Homo sapiens: one gene and its partners. The protein of the gene in region 3 interacts with the protein of the main gene of each other region in a pairwise test. Each region holds a gene or a part of one and is shown on either strand. Other genes may lie near its edges.

Evidence for each region.
Region 1: the proteins of VSX2 (region 3) and BAG6 interact in binary tests that used the Homo sapiens proteins (3 or more experiments, as listed by UniProt).
Region 2: the proteins of VSX2 (region 3) and NUP58 interact in binary tests that used the Homo sapiens proteins (3 or more experiments, as listed by UniProt).

Annotation. Positions count from the first base shown.
Region 1 is NC_000006.12:31,646,025-31,649,673, forward strand, and holds part of BAG6 (large proline-rich protein BAG6), read right to left. Parts: intron 3,604-3,649; coding exon 3,486-3,603; intron 3,372-3,485; coding exon 3,175-3,371; intron 2,941-3,174; coding exon 2,887-2,940; intron 2,728-2,886; coding exon 2,653-2,727; intron 1,803-2,652; coding exon 1,567-1,802; intron 500-1,566; coding exon 370-499; intron 1-369. UniProt on the Homo sapiens protein: ATP-independent molecular chaperone preventing the aggregation of misfolded and hydrophobic patches-containing proteins.
Region 2 is NC_000013.11:25,308,005-25,311,653, reverse strand, and holds part of NUP58 (nucleoporin p58/p45), read right to left. Parts: intron 2,408-3,649; coding exon 2,372-2,407; intron 1-2,371. UniProt on the Homo sapiens protein: Component of the nuclear pore complex, a complex required for the trafficking across the nuclear membrane.
Region 3 is NC_000014.9:74,256,370-74,259,913, reverse strand, and holds part of VSX2 (visual system homeobox 2), read right to left. Parts: intron 313-3,544; coding exon 132-312; intron 1-131.

The DNA of each region.
Region 1 (3,649 bases), on a different chromosome or scaffold from region 3:
ACCCAGGCTAGAGTGCAGTAGTGCAATCTCGGCTCACTGCAACCCCCTCCTCCCGAGTTCTAGCGATTCTCCTGCCTCAGCCTCCTGAGTAGCTGGGATTACAGGTGTGCACCACTACATCCAGCTAATGTTTATATTTTCAGTAGAGATGGGGTTGCACCATGTTGGCCAGGCTGGTCTCAAACTCCCAATCTCAGATGATCCGCCCACCTTGGCCTCCCAAAGTGCTGGGATTACAGGCGTGAGCCACTGCACCTGGCCCTGTTGCAATGTTTTTCCAGGGAGGGAAAGAGTTATCTGCATTTCAGCCTGTTCTGTTTTGGGAGTACTGGGGCTGAGGAGAAAGGGCAGGGCCATCAAAGGGCTCACATTGTTATTGTAGTCCGTGGTGGCAGCAGCACCCAGAACCTCGTAGTAGCGCTGCAAGAAGGGCTGGAGGCGACTCTCCAGCCGCTGTAGCTCCTGGAGCACCTCGACATACTCCGCAGGGGAAGGATGGCTGTGGACAAACCCAAGGGGCAATGAGCCAAAGCCTTCCTCAGATTCCCACCCTCACAGTCAACAGGGACCACATGTGCCCTCTTTCTCCCTGGTCTCCCAGAGCCCTGGCCCAATCCTTCTCTGGACCAGCAGAGCTTCTATTCTCTTCAACCTCCGCCTCCCAGGTTCAAACGATTCTCCTGCCTCTGCCTCCCAAGTAGCTGGGATTAAGTTGCCTGCCACCACACCCGGCTAATTTTTGTTTTTTTTTTTTTTTTTTTTTTTTTGAGACAGAGTCTCGCTCTATCACCCAGGCTGGAGTGCAGTGGTGCGACCTCAGCTCACTGCAAGCTCCGTCTCCTGGGTTCACACCATTCTCCTGACTCAGCCTCCCGAGTAGCTGGGACTACAGGTGCCCGCCACCATGCCCAGCTAATTTTTTGTATTTTTAGTAGAGACGGGGTTTCATCATGTTAGCCAGGATAGTCTCGATCTCTTGACCTCATGATCCACCCGCCTCGGCCTCCCAAAGTGCTGGGATTACAGGCGTGAGCCACTGTGCCCGGCCTGTATTTTTTAGTAGAGACAGGGTTTCACCATGTTGGCCAGGCTGGTCTCGAACTCCTGACCTCAGGTGATCTGCCCGCCTCTGCCTCCCAAAGTGCTGAGATTACAGGCATGAGCCACTGCACCCAGCCAAAGCTTCTATTCTTTACTCCCACCCATGAGAGGATAGGGAGAAGAAAATGAACTGCTCCCACCCTCCCCACCACAATCCTGCACCTACAATGGTGAAAGACTAATTCTAAGAAAGAGAGCAGGCCTTCGTGAACTCAGAGGAGAATTCCGATCAGGCTCAGGAGATACCATTTGGATTTCCTTGCCGTAGGGAGAGCAGCAGTTCTTCTCAGCTGCCTGTCCTAGCGTCATTTACCTATACCGAGAGAGCCCCTCCTCGCCCCTCAATGCTAACCCTTCAACTAAGACCTCCAAGTAATCCTTTCCCTCCCTTGCCATGGTTCATTTCCTTCTCCCCATACTTCACTTAGGATTCCCCACCCACTAAAGATTCCCTCCATCTCTCACTTGGGTGCATTTGTTTCCGGGGCAGGTGTTGGGCCCGCTGGGGCTGGGCCAGGAGTGAGCTCCGGGTTCTGGGCTGGGGCACGCTCCTCCACTTCTTCTGCCTCCATGGGCTCCCGGGGAGGTGCTTCACTTTCAACTGGTTCTGATGTTTGAGAGCTCAAGGCTACTGGCTCCGGGGTCACAGCCGGTGGCTGCGGGGGCGGCTGACTGTGCTGCGGTTGGGGCCCTCCTCGACACTGAAGGTAGGGGAGAGTCAGGATACCAAAGGCAGGGTAAGACTGCTGCAGAGGATTACTCTACAGGAGACTGAACAGAGAAAGTATCCTAACTAGACTCCCTGAAGGCATGGCTCTGCAATTTTATCTCCGACTCGCTAGCAACTAGCATAAGACTGACACAAATTAGATGCATAATAAGCATCTGTAATTTTTTTTTTTTTTTTTGAGACAGAGTCTCGCTCTGTTGCCCAGGCTGGAGTGCAGTGGCATGATCTCAGCTCACTGTAACCTCCGCCTCCCAGGTTCAAGAAATTCTCTTGCCTCAGCCTTCTAAGTAGCCAGGCCTACAGGCGCGTGCCACCACACCCAACTAATTTTTGTACTTGTAGTAGAGACAGGGTTTCACCATGTTGGCCAGGCTGGATTGGAACTCCTGACCACACGTTATCCCCCTGCCATGGCGACCCAAAGTGCTGGGATTACAGGCAGGAGCCACCACACCCGGCCACAGCATCTGTAATATTTGTAAATAAATTTCTAACAAAGAGTAGAGATTGTGGTTTCCTTTCCTCCACAAGTTGGTTTCCCAGCCTCCACAAGTTAAGAGAGTAGAATCCTTTAATTGAAAAGAGATGCCATGAGACTAAGTCTGAAACAAACTCCCCAGATACCAGGCACCAAGAGGATTGGCAGAAATGAGAGAGCCTCACAAAGATACTTTTTCTGCCCAAAAGAATGAATACTGCAGAGAAGACTAGATTATGAAGGCCAAACCCTGTGGATGTGGCCAGTGAAGCCCTAACTCCCAGGCTGAGAGAAAAGGGAGAGGGAGGGTGGAGAGAGACCCTAGCCAGCCTTGCCCACTTACCTCCATCCGGGATAGTAAGGTCTGTATATCCCTGATCATGTGCTGAGCCATCACCAGCCGTACCCGGGGCTCACTCTACAATGAGAGAAGGTTTATCAGGGTAGGTTACAGATGAAGCCATGAGTTCTACCACCTACTAAATCAGGTCCCAGCCATCTCTCAGCCAGGTCCACCCCACCTCCCAGCCTCCTTCTCCCAGATCCCCTTCCCTGACCCTCGGAGGCCCCTCAATACCTGAATCGGGGCCTGTTCCATGTTGATGTGAACATCCACAGCAGAGCCGTCACTCTGGGGAAAGGGTAAGGGAAGTTGTTCTGGGAGAAGCCAACACTAAGGCCTCCACACCTCCAATTCATTCCCTGGAGCCCTACCTCCTTTTCTCCTTAAAGACTGAGACCAATAGCACACCACAGGGCCCCCTGAACCCAATCTAAAGATGGAAGCATCTATCTTATTAATTCCCTGGTGCTACCACAACCAAAGCTACCCACAAAAGCCCTCCCCTGTGGAACATAAGCTTACAGGAAGATTGAAGGTTCCAACCATGACATAGCTGTTGGCATTCCGGTCATGAACAGAGGCCCCAGGCCCCCGAGTACCAGGGGGGGATCCCCCACCATGAGTGGCTGAGGCAGACCCCGTCCCAGAAGATGCCCCAGAAGGGAGGTGAGTCTGAGGAGGAGCCCGTTCCACCAGGTGGATAACCTTTCCCCCAACATCTGCAGAAAAATAGACACACACCAAAACATAGTATGAACAGGTAAACCCATGGCCTCAGTTCATCCCTCCAGACAGTAGCCCCAACCTCTGAACTGCCTCCCCAGCCCCCTTACTGTATTCCTGAAGCTTCTTATCATCTTGCAGAACTCGTCCCTGGTAAATGAGCCGTTGTTTTTCAGATGGGATGCTGACAGAGGCAGCAATGTGCTCCTTAAACTCTTTTACATTCATCTGAAAAGAAGAGGCATGCACAGGAATGGAAAGAATGGAGGAAAGA
Region 2 (3,649 bases), on a different chromosome or scaffold from region 3:
TCTGTAATCCCAGCACTTTGGGAAGCCAAAGTGGGCAGATCACCTTAGGTCAGGAGTTCGAGACCAGCCTGGCCAACATGGTGAAACCCCGTTTCTACTAAAAATACAAAATTAGCTGGGCGTGGTGGCGCATGCCTGTAATCCCAGCTACTCGGGAGGCTGAGACAGGAGAATTGTTTGAACCTGGGAGGCAGAGGTTGTGGTGAGCTGAGATCACGCCATTGCACTCCAGCCTGTGCAACAAGACCAAAACTCCGTCTCATAAAAAACAAAAACAAAAAGAAAACACAAACAAAAAACCCCCACAAATATCCTGGTGATTCTGCCCAATTTAAGGTTCCTATTAGCTCTAGATTGTCTTTAAAATAGAGTCTAAAGGCACGACATATACCTCCCTTTCCTATCTGGTCCCAACCTGCTCCTCAATTCTCAACTCTGCCCACCATTTCCACCTCTGATTTCTAAGCTCCAAAACCAAAATACTTCATATTTCCCAGAACGCTTTTATGACTGGGCCTTTGCACTTGCCACTCCTCTCTCTGAAGTGCTTCCTGCCCATAAAGTAAACCATACTGTTTTCTTCCTCTGCCTTTCATGGTGCCTCTACATCTTTTAGGACATTTATCGGATTATACAAGAACATGTTAATATACCTGCCTATCCCTTTCACCTCACAACAGACTGACTGTCTTGCTCCAACCCTTAGCAGTTCCCAATGTCATCATCAAGGACCATCCTCACCAGCAGTGCCACAATATTCAATGTTCAAGGCATTATGTAGACACAAGGCTGCATGGTTAGGAAGTAGTAACTGCTCAAACAATATTAAATAAAGAAATGTATGAATGACCTGCATGACTTAACCTGAAATCACTGAGAGAAAAGAAGCCAGAAACTATGCTTCTGGATTGCCCTGATCACAACTAGAAGTTCCTGCCAGAGTGCAGTGCTTTGAAATCACGTATGGGGTTACAACCTCAGAAAACAAGACTCAGGCTTGGTGTGGCTCAAGCCTGTAATCCCAGCACTTTGGGAGGCCAAAGAGGGCACGTGGCTTGAGGCTAGGAGTCCATGACCAGCCTAGGCAACATACTGAGACCTTGTCTCTACCAAAAAAAAAAAAAAAAAAAAAAAGGCCAGGCACAGTGGCTCACGCCTGTAATCCCAGCACTTCGGAAGGCCAAGGCGGGTGGATCACCTGAGGTTGGGAGTTCGAGACCAGCCTGACCAACATGGAGAAACCCCATCTCTACTAAAAATACAAAATTAGCCAGGCGTGGTGGCACATGCCTGTAATCCCAGCTACTCAGGAAGCTGAGGCAAGAGAATCACTTGAACCCAGGAGGCGGAAGTTGCGGTGAGCCAAGATTGCACCATTGCACTCCAGCCTGGGCAACAAGAGCAAAATTCCGTCTCTAAAAAAAAAAAAAAAAAAAAAAAAAAAAAATTAGCCAAGGGTTGTGGTATGTGCCTGTAGTCCTAGCTACTTGGGAACCCCAGAGAAGATCGCTTGAGCCCAAGAGTTTGAGGTTGCAGTGAGCTGTGATGGTGCCACTGCACTCCAGCCTGGGCAACAGAGGAAGAACCTGTCTGATAGGGGAAAAAAAAGCAAAAAAGAAAACAAGAAGATTCACTTGCTTGTGTTTGCAGCTGATCCAGTCCAAAACTTTGCTGATAAACAGATGTGTTGTTTTCTGTTAATAACAGGTGTAGCATCCAAATGAAGAAAGTCTGCCAATCCTTAACTTAAAACTCAATTTAAGAGCTTCTGAATGTTCTTTCATTTCCTTTTCCTTTCCTTTAACTTAAAATTCAATTTAAGAGCTTCTGAATGTTCTTTCATTTCCTTTTCCTTTCCTTTCACATTGTTTACTGCCATCCAGATTGAAAGCTGGCTGAAACCCTAGTTATTCACATTCCCTTTAGCGTTAACACTACAGAAAGTATTATGTCTTTGGATATTAGTTCAATACCCTCAATTTTATAGATAACTAAAAGCCCCAAACATTACCTAAGGCCTCACAAGTATTTTAGAGGCTTAATTCCAAAATTTCTGGCTTAAAGTTTGGTGTTTTTTCCACTAACTGGAGTCAAATGACTAAAAAAGTAATATGAAATAAACTTCCACATTAAAAACAATTTCTGCATTTAAAATACTTTTCTGAATTATAAAAGTACTCTACGAAGTCATTCCTTTTTTTCACTACTCAAATACTGAAAGGTTCTCCGATAAGTCACCATCTGTGATACACACTTTTTTCTATACTCCAGCTCTGTGAAATATTAGAAGAGAGAAGAGTAGAAAGATCACTCAATTTATTAAAATTATTAGAAGACCACAGAGCTGGGATCTTTCCTCAAAAATTCTTACCCAGAGTTAATCCTGTAGTTATAGTTGTTGCTATTCCTGGGGACAAAAAGAGAAATAAAATTTAATCATCAATGAAGATGACATTCTTTAGGTTTACCTGTCATAAGGGAAAGACTTAAAATCACCCTCAGGGAGTGACAACACTTCTAATTAGAACAATACATATCATAGTATCTGCCACTAATCACGCATTTTTCCCATAGCACTGGTTTTCATATTACAAGCCATACATAATTTGATTAAGGAATAAAATTTATAAAATGCAAATAACTATTGCTTATAACAAAATTAAGCAAGACCAAAAAAAGCAACTCCAAACAAAATGCTATACTGAGCTGTCTCAAGCAGCTCACTGACTAATCTGCTCATATTTATTCCTGTAGTTCTTCCATTTTCTAGATGTGGCTGTGAAATGTGCTGCACTCAAAGCTGGAAGATCAACGCAAAAAGTAGTAAGAATGACCAAGAGGCTCTAAGGGTAGAAAATAAGGGGTAAATAAAGAAGCAAACTTTTTAAATGGTCAGCTCCAGTGAAACATTATTTTTCCAGCTGTACTAAAAACAAAAACTTTCTATTGTTTTGAAACCTTCAAGTCCTTTACCTATTGCCCTTTTCCCACTTTGTTTTAATAATACAAAAATGTAAAACATCTCTTAGGAACGTAAATTATAGACCAGGCATGGTAACTCAGGCCTATAATCCCAGCACTCTGAGAGGCCAAAGCAGGAGGATCACTTGACCTCAGGAATTTAAGACCAGGAGGAGACCTCTTCTCTACAAAAAGTAAAAAAGTAAAAAAAAAAAAAAAAAAATTAGCCAGGCGTGGTGGTGCACACGTGTGGTCCCATCTACTCAGGAGGCTGAGGTGGGAGGATCACTTGGGCCCGAGAGGCTGCAAGGCTACAGTGAGCCATGATCATGCCACTGCACTCCAGCCTAGACAACAGAGCAAGACTGTGTATCTAAAAAAAGAAAAAAAATAGAAATTATGTTACAGTAAGGGTGCTGATTATCTCACGTATGTTAATGTTCCAAATTGATAAAGCTGGCTTAAACCACAATCTCCACTAAGGAAAAACACTACATTATATAATCCAAAAATTTAAATTAATATTTGTATGTTTTCCTTCGTTATATCAGAGTAGATGACAGTCAATGATTGGGCCTATCACTAGCCCTTAATTCCAATTCCTTGCATTTCTTTTCATCTTAGCATTTACCATTTTTTAAGGTCTACTACCAGTGATGATCCTTGTAAAGAGAGATACAGGACACAA
Region 3 (3,544 bases):
GCTTTGAAGAATTTCTCTCCTGCTAGGCTGCTGTGGCCCAAGTGCCCCTGCCTCAAGGCTCTGTCCCCTCCTCCAAGGAGCCCGCTCTCCTCACCGCAGGGCAGGACCCCAAGGAGGGTGCGGGCTCTTACCCAGTAGCCACGGGGCACAGGAGTCCATGATGCCATCCTTGGCTGACTTGAGGATGGACTCGGGCAGGGGGATGGAGTGCCGCACCATGGCCCCGTAGAGCCCATACTCCGCCATGACACTGCTCCGGCCCCAGCACTTCTCCCGCTTCCTCCACTTGGCTCGACGGTTCTGGAACCAGACCTGCAGGTGCACAGAACAGGTCAGAGGCTTGCTCTGAGAGGTGCTGGGCCCAAGGCCCTTACCCCTTGTAGGCTTGGAGTGAAGATTTCTCCAGCAGGGCGTCCTTAACCTAAGCTCGCCTACTCCATGGTGCCCTCTGTGTTCCTCCAGGCTCAGGGAGTATTCAGAAGGAGGACATCAGTCTTATGAGAATATCATGGGTAGTTCTAGGGAGATGGGGTATGGATGCTTCCTGGACAGGGTCTTGCAGGTGCGCAGGACCCAGTGTCATCGACTGTTTGCAGCTGAGAAGCCTGCCCTGCCACTGATGGCTCTCTTGCATGTGTTCACACCTCCAGCATATAAATCTTTTTTTCTGATTTGCAGAGGGACAAATTCCTTTCCCAGCACTGGACTAGCAGTGTCTCTGGCTCAGGGCTTCCTCTCTGCCAGAAGCCCAGAGTCACAACCATCCAGGAGGGCTGCAGGTGAGTGAGGGATCAGGGACAAAGGGCAGGGGACAGTCTTAGGGGCACTTCACCCAGGTATCAGGAAGGCTGGGAACTCAGGGAGGGAGACTCCCCTCGGAGGCCTGGGTCAGCCTGCCTCCTCCACCCTGTCCCAGCTAAGCTCTGCCAAACCACATGTGCCCTCCAGGTACCTGCTCCCCACAGCTCCGAGCCTAACTCTGAATAGTATTTGGGGAGCTGGACCAGGGATGAAGATAACATTCTCCAGGGTTGAGGAGCAAATGGGAGGAGGGACCTGGGAGGGAGTGGGGGCGGAGGAAGCACTAGCGAATGTGTCTCTGGCCCCAAAGCTGATTGGTGCAGGGTCTGAATGACAGTGGGGTACCCTGGGGTGTCTGCAGCACTCTAGCCCATTCTAGGATCCCAGAATCCCTGCCAAGTTTGAGGAGGGAACATTTCTTGGTCCCCCAGAGCAGCTTTCCGGAGATTTCCCGCAGCTGACAGAGCCGGGAGCCCCTCGCATTGTCCGCCAAGGAGGTCCAGGCCCGCGGGGTAATGGTGCGCCCCAAGCCTGGCGGTTCCCTTCTCGCCCCTCACAGTCCTTAAAGGCTCAGACCCCGGGGGCAGCGAGTCGCCCCAGGGAAGTCGAGGGAGTCGGGAGGGGAGGACCGAGGCGGGCTTGGGAAATCTGTTCATTTCCTCCCGATTTCCTTGCCTGGGTCTGGGCCGGCGCCGCCCTTCCCTCCGGGCCCCCTCCCCCGCGGCAGAGGTATCAGCTTTTAATGAAAAATTGCTCCAGCTCTATTCAGGAGGCGGCAAAAGAAGAGTCACCCCCAGGGGCAGCCCTGGGCTGATTGAAAAATAAGTTAATTTCAGTTTGAATCGATGGGCCTCAGGCACTGAAATACCACGGGAAATTAAAGCGGCTGCTCTCCCGGGAGCCGCGGCATTGACCCGCACTAATTAATGCTGGGGAGGCAGCACTCGCCTCGTCGCGAGCGCCCCCGCTTCCCCGGGGACCCCCAACTCTTCTCATTTAACTAATTAGACGGGGAAAATTGGGTGTTAATTTGTTTAGGATTTTCCCCCTTCCCCCCGGCAGCCCCTCGCGGCCCCCGCCCCGCGCGGCGCGGAAATGCATGCGGGCTCGGCGGCAGATGGCTGCCCGGGTCACGCTGCAATCTCCTCCGACTTGATTGCTTGATTAGGTCGTTAGCACATTAAAAAAAAATTGCTTGCCGTCTGGCGCTGGCGTGATGAGTGGGACGCTCGGCAGCGCCTGGGTAATTTATCTTTTTATACGGCGAAGAATTTGATTTCAATCTGCAGATATATGGGGCGCCTTTGACACCTGTTTAACATCGCGCCGCTGACAGCTTAACCCTTCGCTTCCTGGGGAGCGGGAGCTGGGGCCGGCGGGGCTCGGGGGAAGTGGGTGGGGGGTGGTCCGCGCGCTCCTGCGGTTCCCGCCGTTGCCGTCAGGTGGCGAAGTGAGCGCCCGGCGGCGCGGAGTCTGCGGCGGAGCGCGGCCGGCCAATCCCCGGCAGGGGCGCTCCGGCCCGCCAGCCTCGCATCCCACGGAGGTCACAGAACACTGCACGCGCACCTTTAAGTTGACCCAAACGCGTGTCCTCTGGCCTTTATTCATTTGTAAATAACTGGGAGCCTCTAAACATGGGAGCTACACGGCCTTAGATGCCCCCGGCCTCTCCCGCCCCGGGTGGCTCCATCCCCGTTTGGGCAGCACTTTTGCTGCCTCCGGGTTTGGCACCTGCAGTTCCCGCGCAAAACTGGGGGGCTGGGAAGCACAGGTGCAAGGCCTCTGCCTGGTCCGGACCTGACCACCCTGGGAGACCCCCGCCAAGGAAAGGGTTTGTGTAATCCGAAGGCCGCTAGATGACTGTCCTCCCTGCCCTGAAGGGAGTGGCAGCAATGCCAGCCGTGCTAACTCGGGCCTGCGTCCCGGCCTGGCTCCATGCCGTATGTAGATCTCCCCAGCGCCGCGGGCCTGTGCTGCAGGATGTGTGCCCGACTAGCTGTGTTACCCGGGGCCTGCGGTTTGTCTGGGGCCTCAATCCTGCCCCATCATCCTCCCCTTAGCGTATCTGCTTGCTGCAAGCTGCTTTCTCCCACAGAGGAAAAATCCAAAAGGACTAATCTACATAAAAGTATGACTCCCGGCCTGGCGCAGTGGCTCATGCCTGTAATCCCAGCAGTTTGGGAGGCCGAGGCGGGTGGATCACCTGAGGTCAGGAGTTTGAGACCAGCCTGGCCAACATGGGGAAACTCCATCTCTACTAAAGATACAAAAATTAGCCGGGCACGGTGGCGCACACCTGTAATCCCAGCTACTCAGGAGGCTGAAGCAGAAGAATCGCTTGAACCTGGGAGGTGGAGGTTGCAGTGAGCCGAGATCGTGCCACTGCACTCCAGCCTGTGCAACAGAGCAAGACTCTGTCTCAAAAAAAAAAAAAAAAAAAAAAGTATGACTCCCGGTTTTATCCACCTCTCAGAGAAGACAGCAAAGAATGAATCCCCTGGTGATGGAATTCCAGACACCAAGTGTGACCACAGAGGGCTGGAGAGGTTTGGTTCATGAATATAAGAAGCCACCTACTTCCTGGTCGGGTGACAGTCTGTCCTGCTTGAATACAGTGCATTATATTAGGTTGGTGCAAAAACTTATTGCAGTTTTTGCCATTGAAAGTAATTACTTTCGTTTGAGATGGAATCTTGCTCTGTCACCCAGGCTGGAGTGCAGTGGTGTGACATTGGCTCACTGC